Linked DNA regions of Homo sapiens: region 1 is linked to region 2. A link means that fine-mapping ties the variant in region 2 to the expression of a gene that starts in the linked region. Tissue or cell type: whole blood. Region 2 holds a variant in brackets; the other region holds the start of a gene. All regions are shown on one strand. Distances are between the middles of the regions.

Region 1 (4,163 bases), 69 kb after region 2:
TGCTCTAGACCTGGGGATACAGCAGTGAACCAGAGAGATTTCAGGAGAGAACCCTGTTCTCCTGGGGCTTGGACTCAGCTGTGTGTACGTGACAGATCAGAAATGAGCAAACAGTCATCTGTTGAACAATCAGTGGGCAACTGATAAAGAGCTTTATTTTCCCCTGTCCCCTATCTGTTTAAACATGCTATGTGGGCCAGTTGAGCAATCTAGACAGGTCCCTTAGCTTTCTTGTTCACCTTCAGATAATTTAAAAAAGTGGTCTGAGTTACATTTTGAGTTACACAAAGTCTCATTCCAGGGGCTGCATCTGAATTGAGAGGGAATGGGGGACAGGAGAGTTAAGGGCTCCTTCTGCCTGAGGTCATGTTCTAGGCTGACTTCCTCATGGGACTTTTGTGGGCTTCTCTCTCCACAGCTCCCCTTCCACTCACAGCCTATGACTGTTATCTTAGCTTCTGCATCGTAATCTATGTCTCCTATTGTTTTCTAATGAGGTTGCCTTGCCCCTTGTAGCAGAGTCACTCTTGGATGAGATCCATAAAACCCTGCTATGATCACCTCCTTTGCTGCGGAATGTGGGGAAGCAGTTGGCAACTGAGTATGGAGGACCTCTGTCAAAACTGAGACAGAAAGAAGTGCTATTTAACATCTAGTCACAAGTAAATAATGTGGGTTATAATCTGGGCTGTAGGCTGGACGTGGTGGCTCATGCTTGTAATCCTAGATCAGGTGGGAGGATCGCTTGTGCCCAGGACTTTGAGACCAGTCTGGGTAACACAGCAAGACCCTGTCTCTACAAAAAAATTTAAAAACCGGGCATCATGGCGCATGTCTGTAATCCCAGCTACTCAGCAGGTTGAGGCAGGAGAATCGCTTGAACACAGGAGGCAGAGGTTACAGCAAGCCGAGATTGCGCCACTGCGCCTGAGCGACAGAGTCAGACCCTGTCTCAAAGAAAAAAGAAAAGAAAAAAAGAATCTGGGTTCTGCCATTTATTTATTTACTCAATTTTTTTTTTTTTTTTTTTTGAGACGGAGTCTTGCTCTGTCGCCCGGGCTGGAGTGCAGTGGAGCGATCTCGGCTCACTGCAACCTCTGCCTCCCAGGTTCAGGCAGTTCTGCCTCAGCCTCCCGAATAGCTGAGGCTATACGCGCGAGCCACCACGCCTGGCTAATTTTTTTGTATTTTTAGTAGAGAAGGAGTTTCACCGTGTTAGCCAGGATGCTCTCCATCTTCCGACCTCGTGATTCGCCCGCCTCGGCCCCCAACGTGCTGGGATTACAGGCGTGAGCCACTGCTCCCGGCCTATTAACTCAATCCTTAGAAAAACAAATGTGGCAAAGGTGGAATCATACAACATATGGCCTTTTGTGTCTTACGATATTCATTTTTGCATCTGAATGTTCAAACTAAATAATATCTACCTTGTGAGGCCATCTGAATCACTTAGGATGGTCCTTGGCACCAAATTTGCCTTCAAAAAAGCATTTGCTTCATTTAATTTCGATTTATTCACGAAGGACTAAAGGACACTGCAAGGGCGGGGAGGGAGTGTGCGCCTGCGCTCTGCGCCTCCTAGAGGGCAGTCAAGGGCTTCTGGCTGACCCGAGCGGAGATCTCGCGAGACTGTCAGACGTATGGCGAGAGGTGTGGGAGGAAGATTGTGTTGTCGCGAGAACTCTGCCTTTGGGCCGTAGGTTAGTGTGGGGCCGTGTCTCAGTCCACCCAAGGTCTCCTCGGATCGCCTGGAGAGGCACTCGGACCTGGTAAGAACGCTGTGGGCCGGGTGGAGGCTCGATGACCGCTGGCCCGCTGGGCCCGGGCTTGTCCGCCCCTTCCCGACCCGACCGACACCGGGACCGGTCTGCCTTCTCCTTCCCTTCCCTCCCCTCCACACGCCAGGCCCGGGCACCTCTTCCTGCCTGCCCGCCGGGCCCGGGCCTGTCTTCTCCCCTTCCGGCCACACGCCGGGCCCGGGCCTACGTTCTCGCCTTCCCGCCACACGCCGGGCCCGGGCTTGTCTTTTCCTCCCCGACCCTCCTCGTGCCCGGCCGTGGGCCTGTCCTTTCCTCCCCGACCCTCCTCACACCCGGCTCGGACACCTCCTGCTCCCCGCCGGCCTTCCCCTCTCTTTAGGTGTGACAGCTCCAAGTTTCCTGTTTCTCTCGCCTCTTGCTTGGATGTGGGGCGAGGCGAGGTCTGTTTTGCCGGACGGGCACAGAACATAATCCATTTCTAGCTTGTCAGGTGGAAATGCAAAGAAGATATTGGGTTTTTTTGGCCCTCTGTGTGCCAAACACATACTGTCACATTTAATTCTCCCAATAATCCCGAAAAGTAGCTTGATTATCTCTGTTTTACAGCTGAGAAGAGTAAGGCTTGCTCATTCATTGGTTCATTCCACCAGCAATCATTTATTTGGTGCCTGTATGTTCAGGATGTTGAGGATAGCAATGAAAAAAATGGACACCTAATTCTCATGGAACTAAATTCTTGTTGTGGGGAAAACAATAATCATAATCTTACGTGGCACGGGATTTAACATGGAATGATGCCATCAAGAATGGCAGAAGTAGAATGACAGAAGTCAGAGTGCTGAATTTATCTGACCCCAAAGGCAGAGCTTTTTTACTTTTAACTGTGCCTTTTTGTGTCACTTTCTAATCAGGGTCGGGTTCACCACAGTAATTGCCTTTTGGATGGACTTAGCTTTCCACCACGCACTTGGTAATTTGGAACTAAGTTTATAGAGACTCTTGAGTTACTTATTGGAATGAGGATGGCACAGGAAGTCATAGTTGGCCCATTTTTATACCGAGATCCTAGTGTGACATTTCCAAACTTTAAAGTACTTGAGACCGTTTGAGAAAGACTTACCCTAAGGATGCAGTGGCTTAGGCAATTTACTTGGTTTTCTCATTTGAAGATTTGCTAGCTTGCAGATTTGTTCAGATAAGTAAATGAGATTATGTATGTAAAGTCCAGCACAATAACGTTCCTTTCATTTTCTCCTTTCCTGCCTTCCAGGGAGCCTTTGTCCTTGGGTCTCTAAGGAAAATCCTACTCTTTGAAAGTTTTGTGGTAGTTTTTATCTAAATAAATCTCTACAATTACATTATTACCTTTGTGCAAACAGGCATTTCGGAAATGGAAAAACATGTTGAGCTATGGAAGGGGAGGAAGATGTCCTTCTCAAAGGGAGAGAAGATATTTTAGAACTACATAGTACCCCTCACCCCCCCCTTTTTTTTTTTTTTATTAAATCAGTATAGCTGTGCCAGAATCTCAGGATCCGGTGTAGGGGTTTCATAAAACTCCATAGGATATCCTGACACATATCCCTCCCCCGGTTGAGAGTCCCTAAGTTAGTGTTTTATAATACTTTCCCTCACATAGTGTTAGCATTCAGAGCCAGTCATTGCTGCTGCTGATGGACTTTGAACTCAGTCTCTTATTTCAAAGAATTAGTATTTTCTGCTTGGTTGGTGAATCTATGACACGAGTTCTCCTCTAGGTGGCAAGCTCACCATTGTGTTCTCAGGGACTATCACAGTAGTGTCAGTTTAGGTACTCAATAAATAGTTGTTGGATGAATACATAATACCTTAATACTTAATGATTCCTTCAACATACCAGGTGTGGTTAGGGACTTTGGACTCAGATCTGGGATTAAATCTTGGCTCTTCTACTTGGGAGTTTGTGACTGTAGGTAATATATTTAACCTTGTCAAGTCTGCTTTTTTTTTTTTTTTAATTAATGGTGATGATAATAGCCACTTTAATGAGGGCTAATTGAGATAGTGAGTTTTTTAAAAAAAGGCTCGGCACATAGTAGACTAGATGTAAATACTTACTGAATTCATTTACTCAGTAATTAATTGTTGAACACCTACTATACAACAGTGAACAAAAAGACAAAGTCCCCGCCATGTGGAACTTACCTTCTAGTATGTTTTCTGAAGGGAGATCAGAAAATAAATGGTTGCTACGTGCCAGACTGTGGTTAGTACTATGGAGAGTAATAAAGCATATTAAGGGGGATTGGAGGCAAGACTTTTAAAAATAAAAGATGGTGAGGAATGGCCTCAATGAGAAGATGACCTCTGAGCAGACACCTGAAGGAAGTGAAGGCCTGGGCTCGAGGATACCTGGAGGAAAGC
Region 2 (4,163 bases):
TTTGGGAGGCCGAGGCGGGTTGATCACGAGGTCAGGAGTTCAAGACCAGCCTGGCCAAGATGGTGAAACCCCATCTCTACTAAAAATACAAAAATTAGCTGGGCGTGGTGGCGGGCACCTGTAATTCCAGCTACTTGGGAGGCTGAGGCAGAGAATTGCTTGAACCCAGGAGGCAGAGGTTGCAGTGAGCCGAGATCACACCACTGCACTCCAGCCTGGGCAACAGAGTGGGACTCTAGGCAACAGAGTGAGATTCTGTCTCAAAACAAAACAAAACAAAACAAAACAATAAAACAAACAAAAAATACCAACAACAAAAGAAAAAAGAAAAAGAAAATGACAAACAACTGGATTAAAATGAACACCTTTTGCTTTACTAAGAGACAACAAATAGAGTGAAAGAACAAGCCACACCATGCAAGAAGATATTTGCAACAATTGATAAAGGATTAGTATTCAGAATTTAAAGAATGTGAATGAATCAATGTGCAAAAGACAAACACCCAAATCAAGAATGGACACAGAGGCATGAATAGGCACTTCACAAAGGAGGGAACATGAATGACCCAAAATCCTGTGAACAGATGAACAACCCTTTAGTAATTAGGAAACTGCAAATTAAGTCAATACTTTTGTCTATTGATTAGACATCAAAACATAATTAGAAATCAAAAAATATAAAATATGGCACTACCAAGAGTCATGAAGGATGTGAAGAAAGAAAACCTAATATGCTTTCGGAGGAATTACACCAACTTTACCCATTCTAAAATACCACTTGTTTAAAATGATCCATTATTTTAAACACCACTCCAAAGCAAGACAAAAAACCCCCAAAGTCCACTAACCCAGTGCTTTTTACTACTTGTAATTTTTTTTTTTTTTTTGAGAAAGAGTCTTAGGCTGGAATGCAGTGGCGCAATCTTGCAATCTGCAACCTCTGCCTCCCAGATTCAAGTGATTTTTCTGCCTCAGCCTCCCAAGTAGTTGGGATTACAGATGTGCACCACCACGCCTGGCTAATTTTTGTATTTTTAGTAGAGATGGGGCTTCACCATGCTGGCCAGGCAGCTCTCAAAATCCTGACCTTAAGTCATCTGCCAGCCTCAGCCTCCCAAAGTGCTGAGATTACAGGCATGAGCCACCCTGCCTGGCTATCACTTGTAATTTTTCTGTTAAATATGTTGAAAGATCTATTTTAGACTTATTGAAGAAAGATTTTTAATCATATATCACTTCTGCATACAAAAATGAAGAAAATAAAATTAAGGTATTTCTAACTATCACAGTCTAACTTTCCTGAGTCCAACTTGAATCCCATCATCAGTGCCCACATTTTTCCACACATCTCTGCCATTCAAAGCGTTGGTCATACAGCAGTTTTGACACTGGGATATGAACTCATCCACACTCCTGCCCTAGAGAGGGGGCCTGTGTTCTCTCCCATTGACTTTTGGCAGCTGTGACTGCTTGGACCAATAGAGTACAGTGGAAGTGACACTATGTGACTTCCAAGGTGATATCATAAAAGGCTCTACAATTTCTACCTTGCTCACTGGAAATACTCACTCTTGGAGCTCTGGGCCACCTGTAAAAACCCAAG[A/C]ACCCTGAAGCTGCCATGCTGGGAGGAAGCCCAGGTCATACGAGGAGGCTACATGCAGGGTCTCCATTCACAGTCCCAGCTGAGCCCAGCTTTTGGGCCCTCCTGCCCAGGAGCCACACTTGTGAGTGGAGCAGCCTCCAGATAATTCCAGTGCCCAATCCTTCAAGTCATGGGGCCCCAGACATGAGGAGCCCTCCTAACTCGCCCTGAGTGCCTCATCCTCAGAACCTGTGAGCGTAATAAAATGGGCCTGTTCTGTGTCTCTAAATGTAGGTGGTCTGTTACACAGCAGTAGAGAACCGGAATGTCCCTCATTCACAAAGACTCTGGCAACACCACAGTTTCCATCTCCTTTCAGATCTGCCATCTCCTGGGGGACTTCAGTGTCACACAAATAACCTCCCATTGCCAACACTCTGGCCTCCCAGTCCTTGACCTCCTCATCCACAGCAATGTCCTCACCTAAGTCACCTGGGCTAACTCTTCCAGTGAACAAATGGCAGGGTCTAGTGGTTTTAAGGGACCCTGTGAGGGCTGTTATAAGGGAAATGGAGGCTTCCTCTTGTAGCCCCTCCACAGGTCCTGTGCCTCCCCCTGGTGTTGTCAACATGCAGGACATTGGGAAGAGCTGCAGTTCGCAAAGTCACCATGTCAGCCTTCCTGTCAATCACAATAGGGAATTCATAACAGAGTTGGGGTGGGAGGTGGGGAATTGGCATCACTCACCCTGGCTTCTGAGCTGGTGCCTCCGGCTTTTCACCAGTACTTGATTCTGTCTCAGCCCAAATAAGCGGATGTCCTTCGTCACCTACTCCACGGACAGCAACACCGTCTTGCCGGCTCACCTCAGACAAGTGAGTGCTGCTTTGAGCCCTAAAGGGAGGCCTGATGAACTGAGCCAGAGGGACCTCCAGGGAGCTGAGGGGCTCCCAGAGACCTTGGCTGGGAGCCTGACAGCACACAGGGCAGGCCGGTCAGGGCAACTCACAGTACCCACCCTGACCTTAGCCCCGGCTCCCCTGCATCCTCCTACCCATGGCTGCAAGGTTACCTGCAGGCCCCTGTGCTCCAGAAGTTCTCAGCCTCCCTACTTCACACTCCCCTGCCCTCTCTCTGCCCTGCCTCCTTCCCTGGGAGGTGGCTGTGAGGATTCCCGGGGTGCAGGGGCTGGCAGGGCGGGGGTGTGTGTCCTTTGAACACACACCTTTGCTGGCTGCTGCTCTGTGCCTGTTCCCCCTGCCCTGACCAGTGCAGGAGGGAGACAGTGTCAGAGCCGGTGGTGAGAGTCGTGCGACTTTAGCGCAGGGATGCTGGCAGGCCCAGACGGGAGTCCCTGGATGGGGTTCTGAGCTCCAGGCCAGGCTGGGAAACTGGAGGGAGGTAGGAGGAGCAAGCTCAGGTGGCTTGAGGTGGCCTAGAGAGGTGCCCAGGCCCAGCAGGGTACATTGCAGAGTTCCTGTTTGGCGGGAGGTGAGAGCGCTTCCAATGCACATGCCCAGAACTGGGCCCACAGAAGTTGAAGCGCAGGAGAGAGGTGAGGACACTGAGTACTGGATGGGGGCCTGGACCCCACTTGCAGCTTCAAGGGGATACAGGGTGGGCTGCCGCATCTTGAGCTAGGGGGAGGCTTGGATCTGTGTGTCCTGCGCTGTGGGTTTGGCAGAGAGACTGGAGTGGGTGTGAGGTGGTAAAAAGCAAGTCTATGGGGGAGGACTGTGGCGGGTGACCCAGACGGGGAGCCGGGTTTGGGCATGGCCTCTTCTGGGTATGGATGGACCTGGCCTCCTCCCCTCCTGAGCTGGGCAGGCAGGGCTCTCAGAGCTCCGGCCATGGCAGGGACTCTCTGCCCGCAGTGGGAAGCCAGCCTTCAGGGTCCATGCTCTGCCCAGCCTTGCTGTGCAGGCTCAGCCTGTCACATTGGATTAGCCTGACCCTAAGTCCCCAGCCTGTCCCAGTCCTGCCACCAGAGCCAGTTCTGGCTGCCCCAGCCCATTTTGTCTGTTTTAACAGCAGCTGACAGGCTATATCCCCCAGCCAGTCTGCAGATCAGTGTTCAGACCGTGCATGCACAGCCATCAGGGCTGCCTCTCCAGCCTTTGGTCTTTTTGTTTCAAGGGCACAGGAAGTCAAAGAGGCCAGGCAGTCTAATTAAGCAGATTTGGTATTTCCTGTAGCAGGGTAAAGAGAGAGGAGGAAACTGAATCAGGTTCAGGAGTCTAGGGCCATGGGGGCTGGGTGTAGGGTTGGGGGCTTAGCAGGATGACTTTTCCCAAATGCAGCCCTACCTGTTAAAGGATCGAGTGTCCAACACAAGAGAACCCTTGTTAGGGTTACGGTTTGGGTTAGAGTTAGAGTTAGAGTTAGAGTTAGGAATGTCAACCCCATTGTCAGTGGCAGACTCTCAGTTGCCCATCCCCGGTTCAGGGTTAGGGTTAGCATGAAGATTAGAGTTAGAGTTAGAGTTAGGAATGTCAACCCCATTGTCAGTCGCTGACTCTCAGTTGCCCATTCCTGGTTCTGGCTTAGGGTTAGGGTTAGGAATGTCGGCCCCATTGCAGTT

The links. PIP is the estimated chance that this variant, and not a neighbour inherited with it, causes the effect.
Region 1: NCOA4 starts here. The variant in region 2 is fine-mapped to the expression of NCOA4 in whole blood (TOPMed, PIP above 0.99).

Annotation. Positions count from the first base shown.
Region 1 is chr10:46,028,132-46,032,294 of GRCh38, reverse strand. NCOA4 (nuclear receptor coactivator 4) reads left to right here and starts at 1,672. Exons shown (of 10, transcript NM_001145263.2): 1 at 1,672-1,769. LOC105378287 (a long non-coding RNA gene) reads right to left here and starts at 1,520. Exons shown (of 3, transcript XR_945923.4): 1 at 1,428-1,520. RefSeq lists an enhancer at 1,627-1,696 and a silencer at 2,057-2,146.
Region 2 is chr10:46,096,702-46,100,864 of GRCh38, reverse strand. No RefSeq gene overlaps it. Among named protein-coding and RNA genes, the nearest start is that of MSMB, 53 kb to the right of the region's middle. RefSeq lists enhancers at 3,492-3,786, 3,512-3,806. The variant A/C (reference allele first, on the strand shown) is at 1,604.